Linked DNA regions of Homo sapiens: region 2 is linked to region 1. A link means that fine-mapping ties the variant in region 1 to the expression of a gene that starts in the linked region. Tissue or cell type: cerebellum. Region 1 holds a variant in brackets; the other region holds the start of a gene. All regions are shown on one strand. Distances are from middle to middle.

The links. PIP is the estimated chance that this variant, and not a neighbour inherited with it, causes the effect.
Region 2: DPP3-DT starts here. The variant in region 1 is fine-mapped to the expression of DPP3-DT in cerebellum (GTEx, PIP 0.97).

Annotation. Positions count from the first base shown.
Region 1 is chr11:66,873,698-66,881,796 of GRCh38, reverse strand. All of the region lies in intron 3 of PC (pyruvate carboxylase), which reads left to right. Among named protein-coding and RNA genes, the nearest start is that of LRFN4, 21 kb to the right of the region's middle. RefSeq lists enhancers at 2,778-3,516, 4,243-4,743, 4,744-5,244. The variant G/A (reference allele first, on the strand shown) is at 3,486.
Region 2 is chr11:66,475,770-66,483,866 of GRCh38, reverse strand. DPP3-DT (DPP3 divergent transcript) reads left to right here and starts at 3,618. Exons shown (of 4, transcript NR_120586.1): 1 at 3,618-3,828. It overlaps PELI3 (pellino E3 ubiquitin protein ligase family member 3), which reads right to left. Exons shown (of 8, transcript NM_145065.3): 8 at 6,530-8,097. The coding sequence ends at 7,700. DPP3 (dipeptidyl peptidase 3) reads right to left here and starts at 3,433. Exons shown (of 18, transcript NM_130443.4): 1 at 3,402-3,433; 2 at 1,397-1,674. The coding sequence starts at 1,666. RefSeq lists enhancers at 3,294-3,463, 4,040-4,607, 5,546-6,139, 6,777-7,597 and a silencer at 3,604-3,653.

The sequences.
Region 1 (8,099 bases):
GTGTGTCACTTAATCCCACTGCACCTGGTCCCTTACCTGTACAGGGAGGTGATGAGGGGCTGTGAGGGTTACTGAGTGAGTCTGCGTGAAGAGCCACAGTGGCCCCTGCCTGGCAAGGAGCAAGGCTCTGCTGGGGTCACTGCCCACCATTGTGCCCTCCTCCACTGGCACTGGCCGGGCACCAGGTGGAGCTCAGTGAGTATGTGTTGTGTGCTATGGAAGCGGCAGCTCTGTCAGGAGCGGGGCAGGTGACGGCCAGGCCCTCGCCCTGCCTCAGCCTGCAGGTCGTCGTAGGTGCCTTCCTGACTCCCTTCTGGAAGGGGAATGCTGAGTTATTGATCTGAAGCTGAAGCTGGGAGGGAAATGGAAGCTGTGGAGTCACCCGAGAGGCAGCAGGGGAGGAAGCAGGTGCCCCACACACTACTGGCTTCACTGTGGCTCATTCTTGCTTGCAAGGAGTTATTTACACGTCCCAAGTGACAGTCAAAGCTGTCTTATTTCTTGGTCTCTTATGCACAACCCGAGGCCAAGAAAAGGGATCTGTCAGCTGGCATTTGCAGAAAATAGCAAGTGGGTCTCTGGGCTGTCAGCTCTCTGGAGAGGAAAACAGGGTGAAGGATCTTTGGGTGATGGTGGTTGCTTTTCTCTCACTCACTCACTACTGTTTCCCCATTTCTGAGGTCAGAAAGGGAGAGCTTTGCTTGTGTGTATCACCAGGAGCAAGCAAGACAGTGGCATCCCCCGAGGCGTGTAACTGTAACCTGAGCTGGTTGCTGGCCCTGGCAGCATCCCAGAATGCCCTTCACACCTGGGGCTCTAGCAGCCTCCCTTGAAGAGTTGCGGCTCAGCTCGAGGGAGCAGGAAACGGCTCTGTGGGTTCTGTTAGTAAAGCCCTCTGCATTTCCAGGGAAGCTTCTCAGCCAAACTTGACAACCTTGAGAACTTCTTGATTGCCATCCACCAACCAAATACCCAAAAGCAGGGTGCAGCATGGGACTGCAGCATGGGACTGCAGCATGGGACCGCAGAGGGAGCCTGGCCCCAGCCATTGCTGCCCCCTGCTTCCTGTGCCTGGCCATCGCCTATTCTGTGCCGTGCTGTGAAGATGGCAGGAAGTGCCTGGAATGGTGCCAGCCAGAAGGGCTGCAGACTGGTGGCACTTGCTGGGAATGTGCCATTGTGAGTTGAAAGGCTGGCATACTCCAGTGTCTGGGCTTGGTTTCGTACAGCCTGAGGACCGGGAGTGTCATTAATACCAGAGGCAAGGCTTCTGGGGGTCTCAGGAAGGCCGTCTCCCACCCTCTGCTGCCACTTCCGAGGGTCACCATAGGTGCCTCCAGCTGCAGGGGTTCCTTCTTCTATACCCCAAGTGCTGTGCAGAGGCCCCTGCTCCCTTCGGCTTTGGGGAATGGTCTAGTATTGGGGAGCAGGGGGAGTCTGCCCACCCAGCTCCTCCCTTTGAACCATCCCAGACCCCTCAAGCTCAGCATACCCAGAGTCGGCTTATTCCACCATAACCTTGAAGACCCTGCTTCCTGGAGAGAGGGTGGTGTGAGGGGGCCACGCCCATCTTACAGTGCGGTTTCTCCCAGCCGATGTTGATTCTGGAAAGGCCTGGGTTTCAGATCTGGGAAGGCAGTGCCATTCGATAAGGAAAAACTGGGTTAACCAAGTTCTAGGAAGGGTGCAGGCGCCCTGGGAATGCAGTGGTGTTTCAGTTCATCTTTATGTCTGTTGGGCCCCATCCGTGCCTGGCATTGTGTGCGGGTCAGGGAGAGACAGGTTGGTGGTGGGGGTCTTGTGTGACCACAGCGGTGAGCTTAGTTTCAGGGCCATAACTAGGTTCTAAGGAGCAGTGCAGCCCTCACCCTCCGTCATTCACAGCAGCTCCTGACAGCCTTCCCCAGCCCCACACTGCCTGCTGGCCAACATTTCCGTGTCTTCCGCCTCACTCGGCAGCACATCCCAAATCCATCACAGAAACCTGCCCTCCCGTCTCTGACTGCCTCCTGTCTCAGACCACCTCCCTCATCATCTTGCCAGGTCCCTAGGGGGCCGAGGGAGCAGGCTGTGGGCTGTGGATCAGCTACTCTCTGCGTGACCCAACCTCCCGCCTCCCTGCAGCCAGCGGCCCATGCCAGCTTCTAGGCCTCAGGTTCACAGCCTCTAGGCTCACTGCTGCCCCTTCCCCTGATTGCAGCCCAGGCCTCCAGCAGCCTTGTGTTGGGGAACTTTGTATTCTGGGCCAGTAACCTCAGGCAGAAGAGCAGCTGTCTGTGGCTCCTCAGACACCCTCCTCTGTGCACTGAAGGCCGGTACAGGGTGAGTGCTCTGGGACAGGTGCCCCCCTCTCTGCAACACCTGACACTCCCAACTACTTTTGTTTGGGGTGGGTCTTCCTTTGCAGAGGAATGTTGGGGACAGGTTTCTGCATTGGCAAAAGCACGTGGTGTCCTCGGGCCTGTGTGTTTGCTCCAAGTGTATGTGGGCATCACACCTGCTGGCTCCCCTATGCAGTGAACTCTGCTAAGCATTGGGTGCATGGTCAGCCTGGCTTGGTGGGTGGGCTGCCTGTGCTGCCTTCACCCCAGGACGGCCTGGCCTGTGGGGAGGTCAGCATGGAGCTGCATCATGGTGCGAGTGGGAGGGCGCAAGTGTGTGGGCCTTCCAGCTGTGTGGGGCCGGGGGCTTCCTCCCTGGCCCTCTGTTCATCTGGGAGGGGAGGGAGTTGGGAAGATAGTGACAGCAGCTGATGTTTGTCACCCAGGCATGGCGCTTTAGCTGTACTGTCTCAGTCGACCCCCAGGATGACCTGCTTAGGGTGGGCTGGTGGAACCCCGTTTTACAGATGTGAAAGCTGGGGCCTCAGAGGTGCCCAAACCATGGAGCTGGGGCAGCCCCCGGCCAGTGGACTGTGGGCCTGCGCTGGGCTGTGCCCCAGAGGAGGCTACTCTCTGTTCCACTTTTCCCTGCTCTGACTTCAGCCGAAGAGCCCTGATCTTTTCCCTTCCATAAACATCTGCCTGGCATGCTGCCACCCAAAGAGCTCCCGTGCCCCGGGGACAGTCCTCTTGGCCTCAAGTCTAGGCCTGCTTTCGCTTCCCTCTGAGGGACACAAGGACTCACGGAGGCATTCCTGTGCCCCCCGCTGCCCACAGCCTCCGGCTCTTGGTGGAGTGGGACTGCTAAGGAATCCTTTACCCACCAAGAAAAAATGAGGATCCAATGCAAGAATGTATGTGAGAGGGGCCGCCGAGGGGGCGGCAACATGTCAGCACTCCATCATTTTCCTGCCTGAGCTAAGCAGACACTTGGTGGCCACGCTGTGGGGCAGGGTGCAGCCTTCCAGAGGCTCTGGAGGTGACCGGCCTTTGGCATATCTTCTGAGGAAATCTCTTTCTTTGCATGGAAAAGGCAGTGGGGAGTGAGTGTGGTGTGGACAGGGGAGGAGAGCAACAAAAATGACCTGTTTACCCACAAACCAC[G/A]GGTAAGTGCCCCTGTGGTCGCAGGGTAAACCCACCCAGGTGGGAGGAAAGGACTGGGGCTCCCTGGAAAAAGCTTGAAACTGCCCTGGAGGTTTGAGAATCTCGGTGCCAGTGGGCTGCTGCCAGCTGTGAGGCTGCTCACCTATAGGCAGGCCAGCAGGTGAGGAGGGGGAGGGTGCTAGGCTCCTGGGAGACACATAGCCAAGTCCTCCCACCCAAGGAGTCGGTGTAGCAGGAGCTCCCTTCGCCTTTTCCTGCGGAGCTCTTCCTGTCCCTTCTGTATATTTCTTCTTTTTTTTCTAATTATAAATAACGCATCCCCAATGGAGAAAATATGGAAATTTTCCATATGGAAATATAGAAAAGCATAAAGAAGGAGGAAAACACAACTCTACAGCAATTCCATAGCACGTGGGAGTGAGGAGGGTGGCATGCAAGCAGTCCTACAGTTGTTGCCATTCCTTTAAAAAAACTTCATGAGATCATGTTGTTTACCATTAAATTTTCTTGGCTTCACATTACATCACAAGCATTTCCCATGTCATCAAAACCTGTGCAAACACATTATTGTTAATGGTTACATAATGTCTGTGGGAGCCAGGGTGTGGAATCTTTAAATTGCTTCTCATGATTTTCTGTTGTAAATAATGCTGCTTTGAACATCTTTCTGCGTACATCTTGGTTCCCATTTTGGAATATTTCCTGGGGTTGGATTTCTGGAATAGTAATGACTGGGCTCAGGGGCATAACCCGCCACCATGCCTAGCTAATTTTTTTGTATTTTTTAGTAGAGATGGGGTTTCACCGTGTTAGCCAGGATGGTCTCCATCTCCTGACCTCGTGATGCACCCGCCCTGGCCTCCCAAAGTGTTGGGATTACAGGCGTCAGCCACTGTGCCCGGCTTTTTTTGTTTTGTTTTGTTTTTGAGATGGAGTCTCGCTCTATCACCCAGGCTGGAATGCAATGGCGCGATCTCGGCTCACTGCAACTTCCGCCTCACAGGCTCAAGCAACTCTCCTGCCTCAGCCTCCCGAGTAGCTGGGACTATAGGCGCCCACTATCATGCTGGGCTAATTTTTGTACTTTTAGTAGAGACGGGGATTCACCATGTTGGCCAGGGTGGTTTTGAATTCGTGACCTCAAATGATCCGCCTGTCTCAGCGTCCCAAAGTGCTGGGATTACAGGCGTGAGCCACCGCGCCTGGCCGGGCATAAATACCTTAAAGGCTCTTGATAAGTTTTGCAAACAGCTTCCCGGAGAAGCTGCCGTGATGCTCAGCAGTGCCTGCGGGCCGCCTCCTGAAGGCCTTCCTGGCGCTCAGCACTGCATTTACAAAGCTCCCAGGCAGGAGTGGCACCTCATGGTTGTATTTTGAATCTCTTGCTTTCTCGTGGGTTCAAGAGCCACTTGTGTTTGCTGTCTTGTTGCTGTGCTTGTCCCGAAGGCTCCCCTCGCCTCTTCCTGACTTTGCCCTATGTGGTAACTTGAGCTCTTTTGACATGGCCTTTCCCAGCGCTCAGCAGAGTAGACATTTGGTGCCCAGGAGGAGGGTGAGATTTACACCCCACACCTGCTCTCTGATGCCAGTGCCGCCTGCTCCCAGCTGGGAAAGACCTGTCCTCCTAGTGGGCAGCATCCGATAACTCGCCTGGAGCAGGGCTTAGAGGATTGTAGATCTGCATGTGGGAGATAGCAGGGTGATAACGTCTGACGTTCATCCTGCTCTGAGCAGGGTGTCTCCACACCTGAGCTCCTCGCTGGTGCTCCCGGCACCTCTTGAGCAGCAGGTGCTGGGGCATGCACTCCCTAAGGTTATCTCCTCCAGCGGCATTAGCGGTGGGTATGGTTCTTTTCACTTGTCAATTTGAAATGATTTCAGACTTTCAGTAAAGTTGCAAGAGTAAGACAAAGAATTCTCGTACCCCTGACCCCAGTTCCCCCAATACTAGCATTTGCTTCATTGTTCCCGTTTTTCCCTGAACCATGTGAGTGGGTGTAAATTGCAGATGTGGTGCTCGTGGACCCTTGAGTTCCTCAGTGTTTTTCCCTAAGAATGAGGCTGTTCTCTAACATAACCACAGTCCACTGATCAAGATCAGGAAATTGATATCAACGCAATCCTCTTTCAAACCTGCAGACCTTATTTAAATTGTATCGTTGTCCCCTGATGTCCTCTTAGCAATAGAAACCCGGATCCAATCCAGGATCGTGTGTGGCTCTCACCATTGTTGCTTTGGTCTCCTTTCATCTGAAACCGTTCTTGCGTCTTTGTCTCTCACGACCTTTGACATGTTTGAAGAGTCCAAGCCAGTTATTCTGTGGAATTTCCCTGAATTTGAGTTTGCCCCTTGCTTTCTCCTGATTAAATTCAGGCCGTGCACGGCAGCGGGAACCCCATCAGGAGGTGTGTGGTATCCCTTCGGTGCTAGTGATATTAACCTTCATCTCTCGGTCAGCGTGGTGTCCGCCAGGTTTCTCCACTGTGCAATGAATAAGGACAAGGTATATTTTAGAAAGAGGAGGAGCCCAGAGTCCAGCAAGGTTACTCTACCCACGTTCACCATAGCCGGGTGTGACCTGGGTGCCTCCTGGTCACCGCAGTGGCCCCTTCCCAGCCCCCATCTTACCCTGCCTCTGGGAGTCATGCTCTGCCCAACTCGCGCCCCATCCTCCTGAGAGCCGCTCGCTTCTGCCCAGCGACCCGTGCGTCCCTCCCTCCTCCAGGCATCCCCCCTGGGCTCCTTCTTGGCTCTTCCTCCTCGGCCAGACTCAACTCCAGTGGGCCTGAAGACGCAGGCCTGACCCACTTCTCCCAGGCTGTTCTCTCCCTGGCTTCAGACACCACCGCCCCTGTGATGCTGCCCAGGTTCTTGTCCCTGCTCTTCCCCCTCTGTGAGCTTGCCTCACTCCCAGCCCTGCCTTTTCTGTCTTGCCCTTCTTATAGCAGGAAAAGTCATCTCCACCCACCCATACAGGATTTCTTCCTCTACCTTGCTTTCTATGGGGGGTCTCTCGACGAATCTTGTCTGTCATAGCCCAGATGTTTCCTAAGCCCCACCCCGACCCCCATAGCTTCCCCCTGTCAGAGGCTCCGCGTCTCTCAGCTCAGCCTCTGAATTGCCCCAGACATGCGTCGTCTGTCAGCCCCTGCTGCTCGCCAGTCCAGAGAGATCCTTTCCACTGTGCATCGATCATGTCCCTCCTGTCCTGTCCATGGCTGAAGGGAGGCCTCAACCACTGGGCCCTGTCTGTGGCTGCAGCCCCACCTCAGGCCGTGGGCTCACACTTCCCTCTCTCAGGACAGCACCAAGCCTGTTCTTCCTGAGAACTTCACAATTGCTATCCCTTCTTCCTGGAGCTTTCTCTGCGGATCTGTGCGTGGCCGACTTCTCCCCATCCAGGTCCCAGCTTCTGTGTCCCCTCCTCAGAGAGGCCTTTTCTAATATCCAGCCCCCAAACCCCTGCACCCGCCCCAGATCATTCGCAAAATGTCACCTGTTTCTTATCTTCCAGGCACTTGTGATCTGAAATGTTCTGATTTGTGTCTTGTTTTTCTTTTCTTTGCTCCTTTCACTGCCATTCATCTTCCATGAGCAGAACCCTTCACTGTTGTGTTCTCGACTCCTAAGGCTTAGAACTGTGCCTGGCATAAGGTCTGCCCCTAGTGGGGTTTTCTGTTTTTCTCCCCTGGCTGTGGGTCTTTCCTCCTCCTCCTCTTCTCTTTCTTCTACTTATTTCCTTGTTTCTTCTCTTTTCTTTTTCTTCTGTCTTTATTTCCCCTTTTCTAGGTTGTTGGCTGTAATATGGCACTAAGGTTTTTGCAATATTTGTTTCATTTCTTGAGTATGTTTTTATGTTCCTTACTTAAAACAAAATGGCTGAGTCAAGTGTTTTAAACGTTTTCTAAGAAATGAATCAGATCGGCCGGGTGTGGTGGCTCACACCTGTAATGCTAGCACTTTGTGAGGCCGAGGCGGGTAGACCACTTGAGGTCAGGAGTTCAAGACCAGCCTGGCCAACATGGTGAAACCCCATCTTTATTTAAAATACAGCCAGGCGTGGTGGTTCACACCTGTAATCCCAGCACTTTGGGAGGCCAAGGCAGGTGGATCGCCTGAGGTCAGGAGGTCGAGGCCAGCCTGGCCAAGATGGTGAAACCCTGTCTCTACTAAAAATACAAAAATTAGCTGGGCGTGGTGGCGGGTGCCTGTAATTCCAGCTACTCGGGAGGCTGAGGCAGGAGAATCACTCGAACCCAGGAGGCGGAGGTTGCAGTGAGCCGAGATCGCACCATTGCGCTCCAGCCTGGGTGACAGAGCAAGACTCTGTCTCAAAAAAAAAAAGAAAAAAGAAAAGAAACAAAACAAAAACAAAATTAGCCAGGCATGGTGGTGCATGCCTATAATCCCAGCTACTTGGGAGGCTGAGGCAGGAGAATTGCCTGAACCTGGGAGGCAGAGGTTACAGTGAGCAGAGATCATGCCATTGCACTCCAGCCTGGGCAACAAGAGCGAGACTCCGTCTCAAAAGAAAGAAATGAATCAGATGGTTAGATGAGGCCCAGATGCAGGGGTGAAAAGAGTGTGTCTGGTTTGGCTTGGGCTCTGTGCTG
Region 2 (8,097 bases), 400 kb after region 1:
CAAAGTTCAAAAGAGGTAGAATAAACAGTACATCAGCTCAGAGAGAAACAATCCAATCCCTTTATTTCACATATAGAAAAACAGGCCATATTCTTGTACATTCTTGGTGGGAATATAATGCAGTGAAGCTTTTTTAGAAGATGATTTAACAGAATCAGTCAATTGTAAATGTACAGAGCCTTTGACCCAGCAGTTCTTCTAGAAATAGATCCTCCTCACATGTGTGCACAAGTATGCTCACCATGGCACTGTTTGTAAGAAAAACGGGACAAGCTAAATGTCCAGTAATGAAGATTAAATTGATTATAGTGTACACTGCTGTGGAATGCTTTACAGTCAATAAAAAAGAATGAGGTACATTTAAATGTACCCCATTCTCCAAGTTCTTCAAGACATGGCATTCAATGGAAAAAGCAGGACACAAAGCAGGAAAAGAACATTATCTCATTTCTATAAAAAAGAAAATAAGGAACTGATTCACCATGCATATACACATAAATGTATGTAATACACAGATGGGATTGAAAAGGCTGTAACCAAGGCTGGGCACGATGGTTCACGCCTGTAATCCCAGCACTTTGGGAGGCTAAGGCAAGTGGATCACTTGAGGCCAGGAGTTCAAGACCAGACTGGGCAACATGGTGAAAACCCACCTGTACTAAAAATACAAAAATTAGCCCGGTGTGGTGGCACATACCTGTAGTTCCAGCTACTTGGGAGGCTGAGGCATGAGAAGTGCTTGAACCTGGGAGGTGGAGGTTTGCAGTGGGCCAACATTACGCCACTGCACTCCAGCCTGGGTGACAGAATGAGACTCTGTCACAAAAAAAAAATAAAAAATAAAAAAGAGAGAGAAAGAAAAGGCTGTATCAGCCTCAGTGGGTTACCTCTGAGGAGGGCACTGAGAATGAGTGATCTTTGTGTTTTCTTTTGTGTCTTTCTGCATTGCTGCAATGCACTAAGAATTTGTGTATTACTTGGCCAATACATCCAAAAACAAAAACCAAGGGACAGGCAGAACATTCTGCCCAGGGCCACACAGTGTGGTAGAGAAGAACTGGTCCTGAACTCAGACCTCCTGATACCTACTCTGGACTCCTTCTTCTGCCTTCCCTGAATCTCCACCACAGTTTCTTTTGTTATAATCACAGCAGCCATCATTTATCTTGAAGTCAGGCACTGTTCTAAGTGGGTCATCACAACACTAAGAGGTACAGACATCCCACATGCATATTTTACGGGTGAGAAGACTGAGGCTCCAGAGAGGGGAAGTGCCTGAATTTGTAACCTTTGGTCTAATCCTCCACCTACCCCTTGAAAGAGACAGACATTTGCATCCTGGTCTTTCACACCCAGAAGCCACTCAGGTAATGTGGGTTGGCCCAAGAGAACTGACCTGATACTCCTCCTCGGTAAGGCCTTCAGCCAGGGCATGTTGGCGCAGCTGGTCGGGGTCCTGGGCGCGGAAGAGGCGGCTGAGCAGAGCATAGATGTAGGGGGCCTCAGGGGAGGTCTGAAGCAGCACAGCCAGGCCTCCGTACCAGGCGGCACGGGACAGGTGGTAGGCATAGAGGCGCTCTGTGGGTGACAGCAGGCGGAAGGCCTCACGGCAGTCCAGGCTAGACACGCCGATGTCATTGGGCAGGATGTACTGGGTGTCCGCCATGGGCCCTGCTGAGAACCATCACTGTCATCACAGCTGTTGTTTACCCCATACCAATTGCATACCTGGCTCTGAACTCTTATGATCTCATTTAATCCTCCCAAAAGCCCATGTGGAAGGGAATACTATTGTACCCATTCACCAGATATGCTAACTGAGGCTTAGAGAAGGTGAGATGACTCACCCAAGGGGTCACAAAATACACTGGTGGACCATATTTGGTCTGTAGTCCCTAAACCTTAAAGATTGACTCTAAGGTCAGGCATGGTGGCTCACACCTGTAATCCCAGCACTTTGGGAGGCCGAGGTGTGTGGATCACCTGAGGTCAAGAGTTCAAGACCAGCCTGACCAACATGGTGAAACCTCCTTTCTACTAAAAATACAAAAATTAGCCAGGCTTGGTGCCAGGCACCTGTAATCTCAGCTACTGGGAAGGCTGAGGCAGGAGAATCACTTGAACCCAGGAGGTGGAGGCTGCAGTGAGCTGAGACCGCACCATTGCACTCCAGCCTGGGCAACAGAGTGAGACTCCACCTCAAAAAAAAAAAAATTGATTGACTCTAACTACCTAGTATTACAGATGGGGAAACTGAGGTTCAGAGAGGCTAAGAGCCTTGCCTAATCCCACAATGGAGACATCAGCAGCAGAGATCCTCATCTCTAGGCTCCCAGCCCAGGCCCCTCCCTGCTTCCTTGTTCAGTATTATTTTTTTAAGACGGAGTCTCACTTAGTTGCCCAGGCTGGAGTGCAGTGGCATGATCTTGACTCACTGCAACCTCCGCCTCCCGGGTTCAAGCGATTCTCCTGCCTCAGCCTCCAAAGTAGTTGGGACTACAGGCGTGCATCACCATGCCCAGCTAATTTTTTGTATTTTTGATAGAGACGGGGTCTCGCTATTTTGTCCAGGCTGGTCTCGAACTCCTGGCCTCAAGCGATCTGCTTGCCTTGGCCTCCCAAAGTGCTGGGATTACAGGCGTGAGCCACCGCGCCTGGCCTTTGTTCAGAATTCTTTACACTTTCCACTGTGCTCACAAGGATAAAGTGCCAGGCCGCCAGCTGGAAGGCTCAGCCTTTAGCCAGGACTCGGCCCCAGACTCCTAAAAGTCAAGTCCATTGCTTCACTTTTCTGTACCTCCGTTTCCTCCTCTATAAAAGAGAGAATAACCCCAATATTACCAGGTGGGTGCGCTAATCAGATGAAGTCGCCCTGGACGGAAAGTATCCACAGCAATAAATGATTTTGCTTGAAACTGTCCCATTCTCATCCCTCTAAATGCCTTTTCCTTGGCCCTCCATTCTCCTGCTCGCTCCCTGTGCTCCACCAGGGAAGCCACAGAAGTTCACAACCAGAAGAAAGCCCATTTTACAGATAGGGAAACTGAGGCTTGGAAAGGGCAACAATTTACTGAAGGTCTGACAGCCCCGTTGGAACCCGGGGATTCCCCAACCCGGGGCATTCTCCCCGCCACGCCCCGTCCCGGCTGGGACAGAGTGTCCAGCCTCCTCGCCCTGCCCCGGCCTCCAGAAGCCCCGCCCCAATAGCACAGCCTCGAGGTTCGGAAAGGGCTGTTAACTCTTTGCTCCCCGGAGCACTCCTTGGCCTCGAGGGCGGGGTGAATTTGGAGGGGGTACTGGAGAGTGGGCAGAAAGGGAACGATTTTGCGCTCAGTATGGATTCGCCTTGGTCCCCCGGGATGACACGCTTTGACCCCAAAAGCCCAGGCGCCGCGCCTCACCTGCAGCAGCTGCTCCGTTCGCAAACTCACTTCCTGCTTCCGGCTCCCCCATTCATTGGGGCTCTGCGAACCCCGCCCCCCTTGGCCAACTGCCTGGCCTCGGGGTCCGGATGGGCGTCAGTACCAGCCAATAGACGCGCCAAGACGAGCTTCTCGGCTCGCCCGCTCCCGCCCCCAGGCGCTACGGGGTGGCGCGCGGATTGGCCCTGCGGGCTCGGCCTTTTGTCAGCAGGCCGCACACGCGCCGGACCGGGTACCGCTGTGCCCGGCCTGGCCGCGGCCTAGTCCCGGCAGACGGGACTGACGAGGTCACCAAGCCCAGGCCGAGACGGCGCGGGTGTCAGGGACTTGGGAATCCCCCTCCCCCAGTCCCGATCCCGCTTTCCTTTGGGGTTTCACCTCAGAGGACCCGACAGCACTCTTGCAGGTGGGAACCTACACAATAGGAGTAATGTGGCTCCACCTTCCTCTCGGGACTCGGGACCTGGGGGTGGAGACTTGGAAGTTGCAAAGCTCTCGGTGCCGGGAATCGGGGCTACGGTTGAGTGGGATCGGGCCAGGGCTGAGGTGGTCCCACCCGTGTAGGGGCGCGGAGAAACGCCTCGACTGCTTCACTGTACCACCACCCACCCGCCACGGGCCTGGAAGGAGCCGCTAAACATTCCCGAGCCTCAGTTTCCTTAGCACAAACAGGCTGGTAGTTTCCTGGTGCTTGCCAGATGCCTGATGGATGAGAAAGCCTCCTGCGGCCCCGAAAGGGAGTCCAGAGCAGAGGCGGGCCCGCGGTCCACTTTTACAGGTCTGGACGGACTCACGGGACCACGGTCTGGGTGGGGCATGCGGAAGGGCCTAGGCCAAATGGGGAGTAGTGGTGAGGGCCCAGGGTCAGACTGGGGGGTGGAGTGAGGTTGTCTGGGAGTCTTGGCTTTATGAACCGGAAAACCAGGCTAATAATTGAATCCAATCCAAGGGATATTGTAAGTTGTGATGTGTTGACTGCAGTGCCGCTCCCTATAGTTGCGCAGGGTGAGGGGCGTTTGGGTACTGAAATCCCGCACGGTCTCCTTGCTACGCCCGTGTCTAGGCCAGACAGCCTCTGCTTACCATAGACACCAGTTTCTCATCCACAAAGGTGCCCAAGGCCCTGCTTGACACAACAGTGTTACAAGCTGTTAGCTTTGATGATTACTTGTTATATGGGGGAGTTCAACAAGTTGGTCGGTGTCCTTAGGAAAGTCACCCCTCTTCTTTCCTGTGCCTCCGTTTTCATTGTCTTTAAAATGGGTATAAAGTTGGCTGACAGGTGAAGTTGAAATGTGCACAGGTAAGGGAGGTAGTGCTGCCCACTGCCAGCAGGGGGCAGCTCAGGCAAGGAAAAGACCCCAGTGCTCTCAGGACCCCCCAACCAGCTACGTGATCACATTTTTATGATCACAGATAAGATGAGCATATACTGAGGTCCCTTGCTAGCAGTTTGGCATGGAGGACCTCATTTAATTCTTGCAAAAATCCTGAGGTATGATCACTTTACCCATTGTACAGATAGGGAAACTGAGGCTAAGAGGTTCGCCGACTCCTATAACACCACACAGTTCAGATATCCCTGGCCCCAACATAGAGATACACACACACAGTCACTCACATGGAGCAGTCTATCACTGGAGTCATAACTCCCCAGCCTTGGCTCTTCCCCATGGGAATGCAAAAGGGGTCGGTGAGGAGCAACAGTTACGAATCAACTGTGTTACAGGTGCTCTCTGTATATTCACAACCACCTGGCGAGGTAGTGACTGTTATCCCCTTTAGCACTGAGGAAACTGAGGCTCTAACAGCTGGCAAAGGCAGAGCTGGGACAAGACCAGGGCTCTGACCTCCTCCACCAATACCTCTGAATCCTCCCCAGCATCTACTGTGGTGCCCTTTGCTGGTCTTTCCTCCTAGGGTCTGAGGTTCCCCACTGGAAATGGGATCAGAATGTTCCCCTGCCTGGTTCCCAACAGGGTCAGAAGAGAGAACTTGGAAGAGTTGGATTTTGAGTGCTTTGTGTGTTGTGTGTATGTTGAGGGGAGAGAAGTTGGAATGCTCCCACACCTCCTGCAGCATCCCCACCCTCCCCTTCACCCCCACTGCAGCAGTGCCATGCTCTGGAAGCAAGAATCTGATCACACCCTCCTCCTTCTCTCATCACATTCGGGTGCCCTCTGTCTTCTCAATAACCCAGGTCTGATCTCCCTGGCCGCAACCAGCTGTGTGGCCTTGGTCAGGTCCATCCCTCCCCTTGGAATCTGTACTTCCCTAGGCTCTGTCATCTATTGGGGACGATGCCCAGGTCAGGCCTATACTCAGAGCCTTCTTCTCTTCATCTCCAGAACAGCCGTCTGCCTGTCTTCCTGGCTCGCTCCCTGCAGGAATGGTCTGGGGCAACCCCAGCAACACGCCCACCTGTGGCCAGGATGAATAGGAATCCAGTTCAGGCTTGGCTTCCATGGCAATCAAGGCCCACCAGGCCCCAGCAACCTTCCCTACCCCCCATTCCTTTTTGCTGCCCCCCTCCACACCAGGCATGTTCCCTGCCACACCATGCTGTTCCCCTCACCTGGGCTGCCCTCCCAACTCCTCTCTGCCTCTGGAGATGCTCTGCCATTCAAGACTTGGCTCAGGCTCCAGGTCCTCCCTGGGCCTTCTAGAGCCCCTGGTTCTCACTCCTCTGAACACTTCCAGCCTGGCTAATAGCCCACTGCATCCTGGCCTGGGGTACAGGTGGCCAGCACAGGTGTGGGGGCCAGCTTCCAACACAAGCACGGGTAGGTCCCTCTGCAGACCATGGGCTGCAAGAGGCCCGGCCTTGCCCACTGCAGGGGCCCTGCGCAGGGCTGGGCACGAAGCAGGTGGGTGTCCACCAATCTAGTATCCAAAACCCTGCTTGGTTCACCCCCACCTCTGTTGAAGGAAAGCAACACTGTGATGGAGAGGAGCAGCTGTGGATTCAAATCCTGGCTTGGCCACTTTCTAGTTGTGTGACTTGGTGCATCTGCCCTCATCTCCTCAGAGACAAAAATGGCAACACCTCCCTTCTTGGGTTACTATGAGGATTAAATAACAAAACCTCCAAGAAGCAGAGCCCGGTGTCTGGAGAGTGCTCAATGGACGTAGTTATTATTATCATCATCAGCACAGTGCGGGGCACATGGTGGGCATTCAGGGATGATGGCCCTTGTGTCACAGCCGACACTCTTGACCAGTGAGTCCTCTCTCCTCCCTTTGTTGACTCCTGACCGTCCACAAATGAGGTTCAGAATCCTCCATCCAGCATCTTCCCTGGTCACATGGTCCCAACCTTTTGCTCCACCCCCTTCTCTGTTCCCCCCGCAGTCCATGCTCCAGCCATCCTGACTCTGTCCCTGGATTTCTGGCTTACTGACACCTGAGCCTGTGCACAGGCCCTCCCTTCTGTATAGAGCACGCTTCCCATCTTGTGGACTTGCTTCCCATCTTGTGGACTCGGAGGGTTCCGAGCAGCCGTTGAGGCTGAGCTCCTATGACACCTCCTCCGTGAAGCCTCCCTCACTTTTCCATTACCAGTGAGGCCTGCCACAGCCTGATTTGTACTCTGATCCTGGCACGCATGAAGCCGTGTTGCCATTTGTTAACAGTCTGTCCTCCACTAGACTGTGAACTCCACCAGGGGGGGAACCAGGTCTGATTGCCTCTGTGTCCCCAGATACCACTTAGCACAGAGTCGAGCCCATAGTGGCTATCAGCAAGTGCTAGGCCCAGCCTGCCACCCACCCACCACTCACTTGGGGGCTGGAGGCATTGCACGCATGCGGGGCATGTGGGACTTGTGGGGGCAGCTGAGCAGCGAGGTTTATAGAGGAACCCAGGGCGGCAGCAGGAAGGATGAAGGATGAGTGTCTGAAACTGGGTTGGCAGGCTCAGGGCATAGCCAGCCTAAGCTGGGGGTCAAAGGCCCCTGGCCCCTTCACTCCCCCAGGGGCACACAGTGTCGGCGGCACGATGTGGGATGCCCCAGGAAGGGCAAGGCCATGGGGCTGGGCTTTCCTCCATCGACCCAGGACAGAGCTGGTGCTGAAGGCCCCATCAGCATGACTGGGGTGGAGATCTTGGGGACCTCCTTGGGGGGCCACAGTTGGGGGGAAGGGCACAGCCCATCCAACATGTCCATCTGGTGTGGCTGTGCCAGCAGGGAGTGTCCCACATGCAGAGCTCCCTCTGGGCTGCAGGAGGTGGGGACCTGGGTGGGCAGGTGGGCACAGCAGCAGGGGGCCCCAGGGAGCCTAATCCAGCGGGCCCTGGAAAATGAGGCGGACGCAGCCATGCTCGCCGGTAAGCCAGGCCCCGCAAAAGGGGCAGGCGGCATGGAAAGCATGGGTGCCGTGGGGCAGTGGTGTCTGGGCCCAGTAGCGGGCAGTCTTCTCAGAGCAGACGTGGCCGCAAGGTGCAAAGGCATGGCTAGGCGGCCCAGGGTCCAGGCAGAGGCCGGCCTCCTGGCCAAGCCATAGAGGCACATAAGGCCCCACAAGGCGGCAGAGAGGACATTCGCGCTCCTGGGGGCCCCGCTCCCGCCGGCAGCCCCAGCCGTGGTAGCCATGGACGTGCCCGCAGCGGACGTAGACCCAGGGCTGCTGTTTGTCGGGCGCTGTGCGGCCACGGGCTGGGCTGGGGAAGGCCAGAG